Homo sapiens: one gene and its partners. The protein of the gene in region 1 interacts with the protein of each later gene in a pairwise test. Each region holds a gene or a part of one and is shown in the gene's direction. Other genes may lie near its edges.

The links. Proteins that work in one complex are often made in the same cells at the same time.
Region 2: the proteins of LHX3 (region 1) and INSC interact in binary tests that used the Homo sapiens proteins (3 or more experiments, as listed by UniProt).
Region 3: the proteins of LHX3 (region 1) and TEX14 interact in binary tests that used the Homo sapiens proteins (3 or more experiments, as listed by UniProt).
Region 4: the proteins of LHX3 (region 1) and FAIM interact in binary tests that used the Homo sapiens proteins (3 or more experiments, as listed by UniProt).

What each region holds. Positions count from the first base shown.
Region 1 is NC_000009.12:136,194,039-136,199,289, reverse strand, and holds the end of LHX3 (LIM/homeobox protein Lhx3), read left to right. Parts: intron 1-230; coding exon 231-382; intron 383-469; coding exon 470-638; intron 639-1,546; coding exon 1,547-1,965; 3' UTR 1,966-3,040; downstream 3,041-5,251. UniProt on the Homo sapiens protein: Transcription factor.
Region 2 is NC_000011.10:15,121,423-15,124,922, forward strand, and holds part of INSC (protein inscuteable homolog), read left to right. Parts: intron 1-3,500. UniProt on the Homo sapiens protein: May function as an adapter linking the Par3 complex to the GPSM1/GPSM2 complex. Involved in spindle orientation during mitosis. May regulate cell proliferation and differentiation in the developing nervous system.
Region 3 is NC_000017.11:58,601,546-58,605,045, reverse strand, and holds part of TEX14 (inactive serine/threonine-protein kinase TEX14), read left to right. Parts: coding exon 1-68; intron 69-2,455; coding exon 2,456-2,646; intron 2,647-3,089; coding exon 3,090-3,240; intron 3,241-3,500.
Region 4 is NC_000003.12:138,611,771-138,615,270, forward strand, and holds part of FAIM (fas apoptotic inhibitory molecule 1), read left to right. Parts: intron 1-3,500. UniProt on the Homo sapiens protein: Plays a role as an inducible effector molecule that mediates Fas resistance produced by surface Ig engagement in B cells.

The sequences.
Region 1 (5,251 bases):
CCGCCCCCGCGGCAGAACCCGCCCTCCGCCGGCGCCCCCTCCACCCCAGCCCGGGTGCTGCCCGTTTTTGCCAATCGCTCCCAGCGCCCGCGCCTTCCGAGAAGCCTGTGGGGCGGGATGGGGGTGGGCACCTGAGGCCCCGACGTCCCCGCGCCGGCCGGGGTGGGAGGGCTGGGGGTCCGGCCGGGGCCGGAGGGGCTGCCGCGCCTCACCGCTCGCCCGCCGCGCAGAGGCCGAGGCCACGGCCAAGCGGCCGCGCACGACCATCACCGCCAAGCAGCTGGAGACGCTGAAGAGCGCTTACAACACCTCGCCCAAGCCGGCGCGCCACGTGCGCGAGCAGCTCTCGTCCGAGACGGGCCTGGACATGCGCGTGGTGCAGGTCAGCGCTCGCCCCTGCTTCCCTCCCGCCCGCGGCCTTGGGGGCCCCCGCAGAGCCGGGCGGCCGCTCACCCCGCCCCGCCCCCAGGTTTGGTTCCAGAACCGCCGGGCCAAGGAGAAGAGGCTGAAGAAGGACGCCGGCCGGCAGCGCTGGGGGCAGTATTTCCGCAACATGAAGCGCTCCCGCGGCGGCTCCAAGTCGGACAAGGACAGCGTTCAGGAGGGGCAGGACAGCGACGCTGAGGTCTCCTTCCCCGGTAGGCGGAGGGATCGCGGAGCTCGGGGGGGGACGAGCGCGCGTCGGCGGGGTCGCAGGGGTCCCAGGGAGCCCGCGGATCTGAATTTCCCATGGAGTTAGTGGACTCCTTAAGTTCTACTTTCAAAAGCATTTCACTTACAGAACCTGCTCCCCCAGCACCCTCCCCGCCCTGGGTGGCCACTCCGGACCACTGCTTTTCCCCTGGTGGGGACACAATCCCTGTGGCCCGACCTGTCCCCAAGCTGGGCGCCTACGGGCTTTCTCATGGGGGGGTGGGCGTGTCCAGGCCGTCTCTCTGGCTCCTAGCCCTTGCAGTGATTTTTAGGAGAATGGGCAGTGCATTTCGGGAAAGACTGAGTCGAAGTCCCAGCTGCTTGGAGTTGGGGGAGGGGGCTACCTGGGGTCAGGGAGAGAAGGTTCCATACCCTTCTGTGGGGCCTGGATTATTTATTTCATTCTCCGGGCACCGGGGATGCTGCGTCCCCATCTGTTGATGCCCATCCTCAGAATGTGGACAAGACACTCTCTTTTGGGCTGCCTCGTGACCCGGGCTACTCACTCAGCCACTCTGGAACTAAATATCCTTGTCTGCAAAATGTGGGTGGTGGTATCTGTGCCCCCTTCCTAGGCTGCTGTGGGGCTGGTCCTGAAAGCCTGGGCCCTGGCTGGGCTGTTCCTGACTCTGATCCCACCAGGCCTGAGACACCTGGGCTGACTCAGGGGTGAGGGCAGTGGAGGGGCAGGGGCAGCCATGCTCCAACAGTAGAAGGGGCCTGTTATGACCTGTCATGTGGTGTGGGGCAGCCACTCTTTCTCCGACCCAGGGGTGCCTCCGCCTGCAGGATGGGACTCTGAGGGGCCGCAGGTGGAGGGCAGGCGCTGACTGAGCCTCTGCTTCTGTTGCAGATGAGCCTTCCTTGGCGGAAATGGGCCCGGCCAATGGCCTCTACGGGAGCTTGGGGGAACCCACCCAGGCCTTGGGCCGGCCCTCGGGAGCCCTGGGCAACTTCTCCCTGGAGCATGGAGGCCTGGCAGGCCCAGAGCAGTACCGAGAGCTGCGTCCCGGCAGCCCCTACGGTGTCCCCCCATCCCCCGCCGCCCCGCAGAGCCTCCCTGGCCCCCAGCCCCTCCTCTCCAGCCTGGTGTACCCAGACACCAGCTTGGGCCTTGTGCCCTCGGGAGCCCCCGGCGGGCCCCCACCCATGAGGGTGCTGGCAGGGAACGGACCCAGTTCTGACCTATCCACGGGGAGCAGCGGGGGTTACCCCGACTTCCCTGCCAGCCCCGCCTCCTGGCTGGATGAGGTAGACCACGCTCAGTTCTGACCCAGGCCCGGCTCCACCCTGCACCTCACACGAGGGAGCTGCCCCTGGGTGGGCGGCTCGGGGCTGCTGGGGTTTCCGAGGAAGTGGGGCCAGGGCGTCAAGGGAGGGCTGGTGCCTTCGGAGCCTCCCACTGCCGACCGCACAGCTCCCTCTCTGGGGGCTGAGGGACCCACCTGGCCCCTCCTCTGACACAGGGCTGGCCCGCCAGGTGGCCTCCCAGCAAGCCAGCCTTTTTTGTAAGCAAATTTCTCCCCTTTATTGACCAATTAACTGAGCACTTGCTGCTATTTCTAGACATGAAATGTCACCTTGCTGAGGCCCAGCCCAGCCCAGCATAGCCCGAGGGCTGGAAAAACGCTTTCATCTCTAAAACTGAGAAATCATCATAATTGTGCTTTCACTTCCCAGGCTCCATGTGTCTTGGAGCCGTCACCCCGAGGCTCCCTCTTTAGGTCGGAGATTGGCCTTGCCTGTCGAGGCAAGAGGCTGCAGAGGCGGGGACACACCTGTGTCCTCCGGGAGAGGCCCCCTCCTCTCCCCAGACCACAGGGGGCCTCTCTGCCTCCAGCCCCACCTTCCCCGGGAGAAGCTTTCCCCAATCCCCAGGTCTCTAGATCATTCTGTTCTCGAGTATCCTGTGGAGGAGGCAAAAATGCCTGGCGCCCCTTCTCTCCAAGCTCAATTCTCTAAGCCCCTCAGGGTCTCCTCCTCACCCCACCCCAGGCCCTTGGTGTCCAGGCTGCACCCACAGATGTCTGTTGCCAAACAGCCTGCCCTCCCTGCCGGAGCCGGCTCTGCCAGCCCCAGATTGGGAAGTCTCCCCGCTGGAGAAGGGTGGGGCTCCTCTGAGCCTGCCCTGCCTCCTCCATCAGATCCTTTGGGAAGAAGTTTCTGGGAGATGCCCGCAGCTGTGCGTGCCCCAGACACAAAGGCTGGCCTGTGTGTAAGTCAAAGTCACTCCCGCAAACCTGAATCTCGAGCTACCTATTGGTTCTGTGAATGTTCTGTGTCTTTTATTTATTCTCGGGTGATCAGCTCTTTCCAAGACTTCAATAAATTTGTCAGTTACAGTCAATGGAAGGCCCGCGTTTTTTTGAGGCTGCGGGGGTTGGGGAGTGTTGGGTGTGGGGAACATTCTGTGAATGTTGAGAGGCAGCCCTGGAGGGGCCCTGAGTCCCCCTAGTTCGTTGCTTGGGCTGGCACCTAGTATGAATTTGGGCTCTCTTTATCCCTGGATCTTGGCCATGCTCATGAGCACTGGAAGGAGGTGGGGGGAACAGCCCATCCCTTCCTGATGGAGGGGAGGGGTTGCGGTCTCCACACCCTGTCCCTGGGAGAGGCAGGGGTTGGGATGTCCAGAGAGCATGATGGGGGTGGGAGGTGGGCCGTGTGTGCCATTCACAGCTTGCAGCTGGCACCAACCCCAGGACATAGGCTGGTAGGGTGACCAGGCTCATGGTCATGGAAGTCTCTCCAGCTTGGATTCCAATCCTGGCTCTTCTAACTTGCTGTGTGACCCTGGGCTGGGGGCTGGAACCCTCTGAGCCCTGCTTCCCCGTCCCCACCCCCCAACCCCCCCAACCCCGCCGCCGCCGTAAAGAGAAGACAGTGATGACAGTCCCCTCAGAGGGCAGAAAGAAGTTGTATGCGCCCCACCCCCACCCCCAGGTAAGTGCTCCTATAGGGGCAGTGGTAGAAGCAGGCAGGGTTGGCCCTTCCACCTCGGCCTTCCCTCCTGCAGGAAGGAGGGCTGGGCCTCCTCCCTGAGGGTCTCTTCCTCTGAGGGGGTCTCCCTGGAGCAGAGTGGGGGCTGGAGGGAGGAGGCCCCTTGGAGCCTGGGCTCCCTATTTCTCAGTGGACGGGGAGGGAAGGTGGAGGAGTCCCCATGCCTTTCATGGGGACCTTTGCACTGGCCTCAGTTCCCCCAGTAAGGGTGCGGAGGCCCCTCCAGAATGTGGCCAAGGGAAGCTGCTCTGAGCTGCAGACTTCCAAGTCTCTCCAGGACCAGCCATCTTTTGGGGGGAACTGGTTGGGACCAGTTGTGTGGTTTTTTTTTAAATGGAGTTTTGCTCTTGTTGCCCAGGCTGGAGTGCAATGGCGTGATCTCCGCTCACCACAACCTCCGCCTCCTGGGTTCAAGCGATTCTCTTGCCTCAGCCTCCCAAGTAGCTGGGATTACAGGCGCGCAGCACCATTCCCAGTTTTGTATTTTTAGTAGAGACAAGGTTTCACCATGTTGGCCAGGCTAGCCTCGAACTCCTGACCTCAGGTGATCCACCCGCCTTGGCCTCCAAAAGTGCTGGGATTACAGGTGTGAGCCACCGCACCTGGCCAAGGGAACAGTTGTCTTTTAAGGGACGTCCTTTTCATCGTTTCGGGATGTGTGTCAGGCACATCCTCTTCTGAGTCCCACAGCGGCCTCTCCTCTCAATCTCACAGAAGAGAAAGCTAAGGCCCAGGAAAGGGGAGGGAAGGGAGGAGAGGGGAGGGAAGATGGAGAAGGGGAGGGGAGGGAAGAGTGGGGAGGGAGGAGAGAGGAGGGAAGAAGGGGAAGGGGAGGGAAGAGGGGGAAGAGGGGAGGGCAGCTTGGGAGAAAAGAGCGGGAGACTGTCCTCAGCCATGCAGGCTTGGGCAACCCTGGGGACTGGGAGTGATGGGGCTGGGGCAAAGGACCTCTGAGGAACATCACCGGGAGAAGGTCTGATGTCCAGTCTGCCCTGACCCTGACCTCTGCTGACCTCTAGGCGCCCACAGACCCCAGGTCTGCAGGGCTAAACCGGGCAGGGGCTCTGGCAGGCTCCTGGACCTGTTCATTCCATGAACATTTCTAGAATTGGCTGTGCTCCGCCCAGCGGCCTCTGCCTGTGGGGAGACTGAGGCCCAGAGGAGGAAAGGACCTGTCCTGGCCTGGGTCCCCCCACCCCCCAACCCCCGCTGTGGGGAAGGAGGGGTGCTGACCAGGCGGTCAACGGGGTTTCTGTCGGGTCCTCCCAAGCCCCACCCGCCCTCCCTCCCTCCCTGTGGCGCATGGCCTTCGACCCCCAGGCTCTGGCAGCCACGCTGTGTCTAAGGAGGCACCGAGCACCCCTGGGAAGCGCAGAGACGCGCGGATCACCAGGGCGGTCCCGGGAGGGGAGAAGGGCCCCGACGGCCACTGGGAATGGCGGCAACACTGGAGCCGAGCGTGGAAGCAGATGGGGTTGGACGCGAGGATGGCGCGTGGCGACGGCGACCAGTGCGGGCAAAGGCGCGCCGGCGGGAAAGTGCGAGGTTCGGGGCCGGCCTG
Region 2 (3,500 bases), on another chromosome or scaffold:
TAGGGGCAGGAATACAACTGCAGTGAGGTTATGTCCTCTCCAGTTTTCATATCAGCAAGCACATGATGTGGGGATTGTCCCAGTGCTGGTGATGGGAGCTTTTATCACTTGCTTAAGAATAATGTCTGCCAGTTTCTCCACTGCAAAATTATTATTTTTTCTCTCTGGAATTAATAAGTAATTTGTAGTGAGATACTTTGAGACTGTGTATAACCTGTTCCTTATCAAACTTATACCCACTGATTTTATCATCGTTGATCATTTTGAATCAATTATTTCTTCCGTATTTAGTAGTTGGCATTCTACTTTAAAAAAATCTTTTCCCCACTCCCTCCCTTCCTATCACTAGGGTCTCATGAATTCTTCATTTATTCAATGGGTTATAGTCAATTATTATCTTTATTTTATCTCAATGTTCACATTGTCCCAAACTTGATTAGTGGGAGGCTCTGCAAGCTGGCTTTCTTTGTTTTTGATGCATCTCCATGATTCTCTGTGCTCTTCCTTACTATTTACTATAGCAAGAAGTTACAGGCTTAGTTTCCTTACTTTGCTACAGCCCTGGAATTAGCCATTTGTCTGAAGAGCCCTGGATCCTTTTAGTCGAAAATGGTATTTAGAAACCAAGATTTAAAGGCTACCTGTGCTCCTTGTGATTGGTGTGTCATCGTTTATATGCTCTCTTAGCAAACAGAGTTAGGACATATATGTATATTTATTTCTCCAATCAACCAATACAATACATTGTTACATGTTTTTAGAAGAAAAAACCCCAAAGACTGTGATAGAGAGTAATGGGGTAGGAATACTTTAGATTGGGTGGTTAGAAATGGCCTCTTTCAGGAGGCAATATTTAGACAGACAGCATGAGGTGGGTGAATGGATTGGAAGAAGAAAGAGCCTGGAGATTGTTTTAATTATTCATACAGTAATTACCAGGGCCTGAACTAAGTTCGAATGAAGAGGAGGTAGAATCAATAGGACACAGTGACCGGTGAATGCAGAAAGTGAGGGAGATGAAGGAGTCTAAGTGACTCCCAGTTTGATGCCTCAAAGGCCTCTCAAACTCAATGTGTCCAAAACAGAATTTCTGTAGTTCTTCATCCTACTGAAACCTGGTCCTCTTCAGGTATTTTAGATTTCGTTGAATGACTCCTTCGTCTGGGTAGCTGCACAAGGCAGACAGACCTGGCAGTCATCCTCAACACCTCTCTCCCTCAAAACCCATATCCAATCCGTCCCCATATCTTGTTGATATTAGCTTGTAAATATCTCTCAAATCTTTCACTTCTTTCCATCTCCACCAGCATCATCCTAGTTCATGGTACCATCTTCACATTTCTGGGGTACCACAAGAGCCCCCTGGTACCCTTATATCCACACTGGCTCCCCTCCAATTTGTTCTCCACACAGCAGCCAGAGCGCATTTCAAAACACAACTCTGTTCATATCATTTTCTTCCTTAAAAGTACATTAGTTGCCTCCTATTGATCTTAAGATAAAGACCACACTCCTTAATAAGTCCTACAAGGTCTTGCTTGCCTGGCCCTGCTGCCCTCTCCTACATCTCCCTACCCAGCACTCCCTCCCTGGCTCTCCCTGCCACACTGGCCTCAGCTGAGTCTCAGTCTCTAGGGCTTGTTAGGCTCCCTCCCACCATAAATCTTTGTATTTGCTGTTCCTCTGCTTAGAATGCTCGTTCTTCCTGACTCCACCTACCGAATTCCTGCTTTACTCTCAGTTCTCAGCTGAGTTGTCACTTTCATAATCTTCAGGACCAGGTCCAACCCCATTTTATAAAGTTTTAAAACATGTGCCTCCTTCAAGCCTTTATCATAGTTTCAATTTTACATTTATTTATGTAATCATTAATGCTTACTTTCTCTATATGATGATGAGCTCTGTGAGTGTTGGAACCATGTCTGGTTTTGCTCGTTACTTTATCCTAGCAGGTATCATGGTACCATGTTACTGACACATGCCACAAATATATGTTGAACAAATGAATGAATGAAGATTTATCATCTGAGTAACCAGATAGATGATGGAACCATTCAGTGGAATAAAAATGAGAAGAGAAGTAGATTTGAGGAGGAAAATGATCATTCATTTTGGGACACCTGGCATTTGGGGTGCCTGCCAACCATGTCTGTCCCTCAGAGACCTTACCATCTTCTGTACAAATTAAGATGTCACTAAGGAGCTTTTGGGAGGCTGGTGACAGGTACATCTAATTCCCGGATGATTCTAAGAAGGTCCCTGGAGGAGATGGCTAAGTCACAAGTGGCATCCCTGAGCTGTGGCTTCTCTATCTATCCTTATCTCTGGTTTGTAGACCATACAGGAGATAGAAGGGGTTCCCAGGTGGTCCTGACTTGGCTCCTTGGGGACTTGTATAAAATATCTTTACAATTCTATGGAAGACTCCTTGGAACAAATGATTCACATTTGTCAGGAGCTGTCAACCTCCTTCCTACCTCTAACACTGCACTAGACATATGCTTAAAGGAGAATACAGAAAGTGGGTCTTACTAAGTCCAGTGAGCCATCCTTTCAAAGATGTCATCAGCACTAGGACAGAACAGCCCATTCCATCCCTCTGACTCACTTACTCTTACATTCCTCACTCACTCATTCAACTTTCTATCTCCTCTTGTTCATTCACCCACACACCCATCTGTCACCCAGCTATCCATCCGTGAACAAGAGTTTATGTTGGATTTATAGCAGGACTCAAGGCTAATGCATTATCTTCAGCCCCACTCCTGTATCCCTCTTTTCTATGGTCCTCACAGCTCAGAATCCCAGGTGAGGAGACTGTCAGGGGTTGGGGAGATGTCACTGTGCTGGTCTAGGGCTGGGCTGGGTATGATTGCAGGGTGTCAGCAGGAAGAATGGGAGACCAGAAGTGGCCACACTGATTACTCCTCTTGGCTCACTATCTGCTTTTCTGGCTTCCCCTCTTTCATTGGTGATGAGAAATTAGAGATTAGGCTCCTTATTCAGGTAGATATAAGATAGACTGGGCTTTGCAGAGGTGTTAGGGGGCTCTGGCCTTAAGGGGAAATAGGAACACAGCTCCCCATGAGCCCTATGGTGGAAAAGGTGATGCTTTTGTTTTCTTCTTCATTTTAGACTATGATTGCACTTTGGCCCTGTGGAATTTGCAGAGAGGCTGGGGGAGGGTGGGAGAGTAGGATTTTAAAATGTGGCATTTAGAAACCAGGCAGTAGACTAATCCTGGCCCCATCCCCATAGAAGCTGTTCTTTCAGTTCTCTTAGGCTTGTCATTTACAAAGAGCTCCCTAGAATGTGTGCTGTCCATCTGCTTTGGCGGCTGACAGGGCTGGAATTGAGCAGGCATAGGACAATGACAGCCACATTAGATAACAGCATCTTGGAAAAATGCCTGAAGGTTGCAAGGGTCTAAGTTACAGACTCATTTGCTCATTCCCTCCCTCACGAATTCATTCATTTATCTACTTAGCACCTACCTAGTA
Region 3 (3,500 bases), on another chromosome or scaffold:
ACAGAAGGCAGCCACAGTGAAATCAGACATCTACAGCTTTTCTATGATCATGCAGGAGATTTTAACAGGTAGATCAAGATCATTAATGGTTGACCAAAGTCCCTATTCTTAGGTTGCATTTTTCTCCCCCCACAGGAGTTACTGACTTTTATGAAAATAGAAGACTTATTAAAAAGAGACTTCTTGGCTGGGAGCAGTGGCTCACGCCTGTAATCCCAGCACTTTGGGAGGCTGAGGCGGGTGGATCACCTGAAGTCAGGAGTTCAAGACGAGCCTGGCCAAAATGGTGAAACCCTGTCTCTACTAAAAATACAAAAATTAGCTGGGCGTGGTGGCACGTGCCTGTAGTCCCAGCTACTTGGGAGGCTGAGGCAGGAAAATCACTTGAACCTGGGAGGCAGAGGTTGCAGTGAGCTGAGATAGCGCCACTGCACTCCAGCCTGGGTGACAGAGTGAGACTCTGTCTCAAAAGAAAAAAAAAAGACTCAGCAAAGCCCATCCATCTGCTTGTCAGTGATGATGCATTTAATCCACACTAAAAAAATTTATTTTTATTTTTATTTTTTATTTTTTTTGAGACAGAGTCTTGCTCTGACACCCAGGCTGGAGTGCAGTGGCTCGATCTCGGTTTACTGCAACCTCTGCCTCCCGGGTCCAAGCGATTCTTCTGCCTCAGCCTCCCGAGTAGCTGGGACTACAGGTGCACACCACCACGCCCAACTGATTTTTGCATTTTTAGTAGAGACGGGGTTTTACCATATTGGCCAGGCTGGTCTCGATCGCTTGACCTTGTGATCTACCCACCTCGGCCTCCTGAAGTGCTGAGATTACAGGTGTGAGCCACCACGCCCGGCCGAAGCAAACTTTTTAACCTGAATATTGGTATCAGTACTTATGATCTATGTGTGGTATCCCTTGAGAACTTGTAAATTAGGGGGAAAGACTAGCCTCTGAGAAGTAAACTATGAAACACACCCTGTGTCCATTAGATGTATAAACAGTGTCACTTGAAAGAAATGGATGTACTTCCAAATCCACTGCTCTGATGTGGAGAAAGTAGTCACATATCTGAAGATGGAAGGAATCCTTCAAAAGAAAGACACACACACACACACACACACACACACACACACACACACACACACACACACACACACAGTAAAATCACATTAAGGGCTGCTTTTTTTTTTTTTTGACAGAGTCTCACTCTGTTGCCCAGGCTGAAGTGCAGTGGCGGGATCTTGGCTCACTGCAACTTCTGCCTCCCGGGTTCAAGCGATTCTCCTGCCTCAGCCTCCCAAGTAACTGGGACTACAGGCGCGTGCCACCATGCCCGGCTAATTTTTTCTATTTTTAGTACAGACGGGGTTTCACCGTATTAGCCAGGATGGTCTGGATCTCCTGACCTCGTGATCCGCCCACCTCAGCCTCCTAAAGTGCTGGGATTACAGGCGTGAGCCAACGTGCAAGGCTTTTTTTTTTTTTTTTTTTAAGATGGAGTCTTACTCTGTTGCCCAGGCTGGAGTGCAGTGGCGCGATCTCAGCTCACTGCAACCTCCACCTCCTGGGTTCAAGTGATTCTCCTGCCTCGGCCTCCCAGAGTAGCTGAGATTACATGTGCTCGCCACCACACCCAGCTAATTTTTGTATTTTTAGTAGGGATGGGATTTCACTGTGTTGGCCAGGCTGGTTTCAACCTCTGACCTCAGGTGATCCACCCACCTCGGCCTCCCAAAGTGCTAGGATTACAGGCGTGAGCCACCACGCCCGGCCAAGGGCTGCTTTTTTATGGTGTTTGCAGTCCCAGAGGCAAAATGACAATATACATGAGATGAATATTGGGCTCCCCTGCCAGCGGGGAGCCCATGTGTACATGTTGCTGACACTATTGTTTCCTATCTCTGTGGCGGTGATCTCTCTGGTAAATGAGTAAAGTGGCTTCTCACTTATGAATTGGCCTTCCAGGTAGTTTTTTTTTGTTTTTTTGTTTTCTGTTTTTGTTGCTAGGCTGGAGTGCAGTGGCGCAATCTCAGCTCACTACAACCTCTGCCTCCCGGGTTCAAGCGATTCTCCTGCCTTAGCCTCCTGAGTGGCTGGGATTGCAGGTGTGCGCCACCACGCCTGGCTAATTTTTGTATTTTTAGTAGAGAGGGGATTTCACCATGTTGGCCAGGACGGTCTCGATCTCTTGACCTTGTGATCCACCCGCCTCGGCCTCCCAAAGTGCTGGGATTACAGGTGTAAGCCACCACGCCCGGCCCCTCTGGGTAGTTTTTCTACAGAGAGAAATTAATATATAAGGAAATGAATTGTTTCTAAAGTACAGTGGATTAGAAAAAAAAATAAAGAAGTTAAGTGACTTGCCTAAGGTTACCCAGCTTCATCTGATTTCTTTTCCCCCCACTCCACTCTTTGGTTTCCTAATTTACTCTTTTGTATGACTTTTTCCTTACAGATGACATACCCTGGAAGGGCTTAGATGGCTCAGTTGTTAAAAAAGCCGTAGTCTCGGGGAATTATTTAGAAGCTGATGTCAGGCTTCCGAAACCTTACTATGATATTGTTAAGTCAGGCATCCACGTCAAGCAGAAAGACCGAACTATGAACCTTCAAGATATCCGGTATATTCTGAAGAATGACTTAAAGGCAAGCCCTGAAGTTGTTGGGAGTTTATTTCTGCTTACCTAACTCAGGAGAATAGGGAGTTAGAGACAAGATGAAGCTAGAGACCAAGTTGTAAGAAATTTTGGAAATCCTCATTTTATTACACCATTTCTGTGTTCTTGATAATAGCCTAACTGCTTAACTTGGTGAAAGCAGCATGGAATTGAGGAGGGGAGCTAGGGAGGTTCAACACATATGCATAGTAGGGGCACCCTGTAGGCACTTAGTGGAGATTCAGTGAATGGTAGCTATTATTATTGCTTTTAAGGTATTGGCAATAACAATAAACTAGTTAATTAGGACTAAAGTCAGTCTACCCAACAGGAATAAGAGGGAGTTTATCAGATACTTAGATGGTTTCTAAAGCACCAGTGACATTCAGGATGACTGAGACTATGTCCTTGACAATATTTCCTGTGTTACAGGATTTTACTGGAGCCCAGAGAACTCAACCAACCGAGAGCCCCAGAGTGCAGAGATACGGACTCCATCCCGATGTCAATGTCTATCTAGGACTGACTTCAGAACACCCCAGAGAGACACCTGACATGGAAATCATAGAACTAAAGGAAATGGGTATGGCCTTAATTCACAGGTTGTGTTAGTTTGACACAAATGTGTTCTGAGAGTCACATGAGCTGCAACTAATTGACTCCTCTAAACTGTAGATGTAACTTGTTTGTTTTGTGAGATAAAGTCTAGCTCTATTGCCCAGACTGGAGTACAGTGGCATGCTCTCAGCTCACTGCAACCTCCACTTCCTGGGTTCAAGTGATTCTCATGCCTCAGCCTCCTGAGTAGCTGGGATTACAGGCATGTGCCACCATGCTGGGCTA
Region 4 (3,500 bases), on another chromosome or scaffold:
TTTCTCTCTGGTCACATGCTCTCTACACAGCCAGCTCTCCTTTGCCTTCTGCCATGAGTAGAAGCAACTTGAGGCCCTCACCAAATGCAGATGCCCAATCTTGAGCTTCTCCAGACATCAGAATCATGAGCTAAATAAACCTTTTTTCTTTATAAATTATGCAACCTCGGGTATTCCTTTGTAGCAGCATGAAAGAGACTGAGACTTCTCATTGTTCCCTTCCCCCATTCCCAGGGAACATCTAATCTGCTTTCTGCCTCTACGAATGTCCCTTTTCTGGGTATTTTATATAAGTGGAATCATATTTGTCATTTTTTGTCTGGCTATTTTTTTTTTTTTTTTTTTTTTGAGACGGAGTCTCGCTCTGTCACCCAGGCTGGAGTGCAGTGGTGCGATCTCAGCTCACTGCAAGCTCCGCCTCCCGGGTTCACGCCATTCTCCTGCCTCGGCCTCTTGAGTAGCTGGGACTACAGGCGCCCGCCACCACGCCTGGCTAATTTTTTTGTAGTTTTAGTAGAGACGGGGTTTCACCGTGTTAGCCAGGATGGTCTCGAACTCCTGACCTCGTGATCCGCCCGCCTCGGCCTCCCAAAGTGCTGGGATTACAGGCGTGAGTCACCGCGCCCGGCCTTGTCTGGCTATTTCACTTAGCATAAAGTTTTCATAGTTCATCCATGTTATAGCATATGTCAGAATATCACTCCTTATTTTGGCTGAATGAAAAGGAATATCCTTTGTATATATATGCATTTTATCACTTCTCAGCCTTTTGGCCGAGATCAAGTGTATGTACCGCGTTTTGTTTATTCTTATGTTGATGGACAACTTGGGTTGTTTTCATCTTTTGGCTATTGGAAAATGCTACAATGAACAATAGTATACAGGTGTCTGAGTGGCTGATTTCAAAACTTTTTGAGTGCATTCCTAGCAGCAGAATTGCTAGGTCATATAGTAATTCTCTGTTTAGGTTTTGAGGAACTGTCATATCATTTTGTATGACAACTTCACCATTTTACAGTCCCACTAGCAATGTACAAGGATTCCAGTTTTTCCACATCCTTGCCAACACTGATTATTTTCTGTTTATTTTTAGTATAGCCATCCTAGTAGATGTGAAGTTGTATTTCATTGTTGTTTTGATTTGCATTTCTGTCGTGATTAATGTTGTTTAGCATCTTTTCATGTGCTTATTGACCATTTGTATGTCTTCTTTAGAATAATGTCTGTGGAAGTCCTTTGCCTTTTTTTTTTTTTTTTCCTGGAAACAGGCTTTTGCTCTTGTTGCCCAGGCTGGAGTGCAATGGCATGATCTTGGTTTACTGCAGCCTCCGCCTCCTGGGTTCAAGCGATTCTCCTGCCTCAGCCTCCCGAGTAGCTAGCTGGGATTACAGGTGCCTGCCACCACACTCGGCTAATTTTTTGTATTTTTAGTAGAAATGGGGTTTCACCATGTTGGCCAGGCTGGTCTCGGACTCCTGACCTCAGGTGATCCACCCGCCTCAGCCTCCCAAATTGCTGGGATTACAGGTGTGAGCCACTGCGCCCGGCCCCTTTCCCATTTTTAAATTGGGTTGTCTTTTGTGTTTATGAGCAGTAGAGTTCTTTATATATTCAGAATATGAAACCTCTATCAGATATATGATTTCCAAATATTTTCTCTCATCCTTGTCCTTTCACTTTCTAGATAATGTCCTTTGATGCACAAAAATTTTAGTTTGTTTTTGTTTTTTTGAGACAGGGTCTATTCTGTTGCCAAGGGTGGAGTGCAGTGGTGCAATCACAGCTCACCTGCAGCCTTGACCTCTCAGGCTTAAGTGATCCTCCCACTTCAGCCTCCCATGTAGCTGGGACTACAGGCATGCACCACCATGCCTGGCTAGTTTTTAAATTTTTTTGTAGAGATGGGGTCTCCCTATGTTGCCCAGGCTGGTCTTGAACTCCTGGGCTCAAGCAATCCTCCCACCTTGGCCTCCCAAATTGCTGGGAATGCGGGTGTGAGCCACCACACCCAGTCAGTTTTAACTTTTGATGAAGTTCAATTTATCTATTTTTTTCTTTTGCTGCTATCCTTTTGGTGTCCTATCTAAGAATCCATTGCCAAATCCAAGATCATGAGGATTTACCTCTATGTTTTCTTCTAAGAGTTTTGTGGTTTTAGCTCTTACATTTAGATCATTGAGATAACTTTTGTATATGGTGTGAGATAGGTGAGGTTCAACTTAATTCTCTTGTGTATGAAAATCTAGTTTTCCCCATAACATCTGTTGAAGAGACTATTCTTTCCCCACCAGTTAGAGTTGGCACCCTTGTCAAAAATCATTTGGCCACAGATATGTGGATTTATTTCTGAACTCTCAAATTCTTTAAGGACAGAAACATTTTCTTCAGGCTGGGCATGGTGGCTTATGCCTGTAATCCCAGCACTTTGGGTGGCCGAGGTGGGAGGATCACTTGAGTTCAGGAGTTTGAGACCAGCTGGGGCAACATGGTGAAACCTCATCTTCACAAAAAATTACAAAATTAGCTGGGTGTTGTGGCACATGCCTATGGTCCCAGCTACTAAGGAGGCTGAGGTGGGAGGATTGTTTGAGCCCAGGAGGTCGAGGCTGCAGTGAATTGAGATCGCACCACTGCACTCCAGCCTGGATGACTAGAGTGAGACCCTATCTCAAAAAACAAAAAAAAAGAAGGATTTTCTTCAAATTTCTGACAGCGTCTAGTACAGTATCTCTTGATAGCAGGTTCAAATGTTGAATGGAAAAACTGAAGCCTGGACATTTATCATAAGAAAACTTTTGTTGTGAAGGTACATCTCCCCTTGAGAAAACAAATAGAGCATAGCTGCTGCAAATCATACAAAACCATAGAAAAATTTAAAAGACATGTACGACCAGGTGCGGTGACTCATGCCTGTAATCTCAGCACCTTGGGAGGCCAAGTCAGGTGGATTACTTGAGCCCACAAATTCAAGACCAGCCTAGGTAACATGGTGAAACCTCATATCTACCATAAATACAAAAATGAGCCGGGTGTGGTGGTGTGTACCTGTAGTCCCAGCTACTTTGGAGGCTAAGGTGGGAGGATCCTTTGGGCCCAGGAGGTTGAGGCTGCAGTGAGCATTGAATATACCATTGCACTCCAGCCTGGGCAGCAGAACAAGACCCTGTCTCAAAACAAAAACAAAAACATGTACAGATGCTTCTTGACTTGTGATGGGGTTATATCCCAATAAACCCATTGCAAGTTGAAAATATTATAAGTTGAAAATGGATTTAGTACACCTAACCTATCAAACATCATGTCTTAGCCTTGCCTACCTTAAGTGTCCTCAGAATACTTACCTTAGCCCACATTTGGGCAAAATCATCTAACACAAAGCCTATGTTACAATGAAGTCTTGGCTGTCTCCTGTAATTTTTTGTACTGTAGTGAAAGTGAATGGTTGTATGGGTACTCAAAGTATGGTTCCTACCAAACACGTATCTCTTTTGCACCATCTT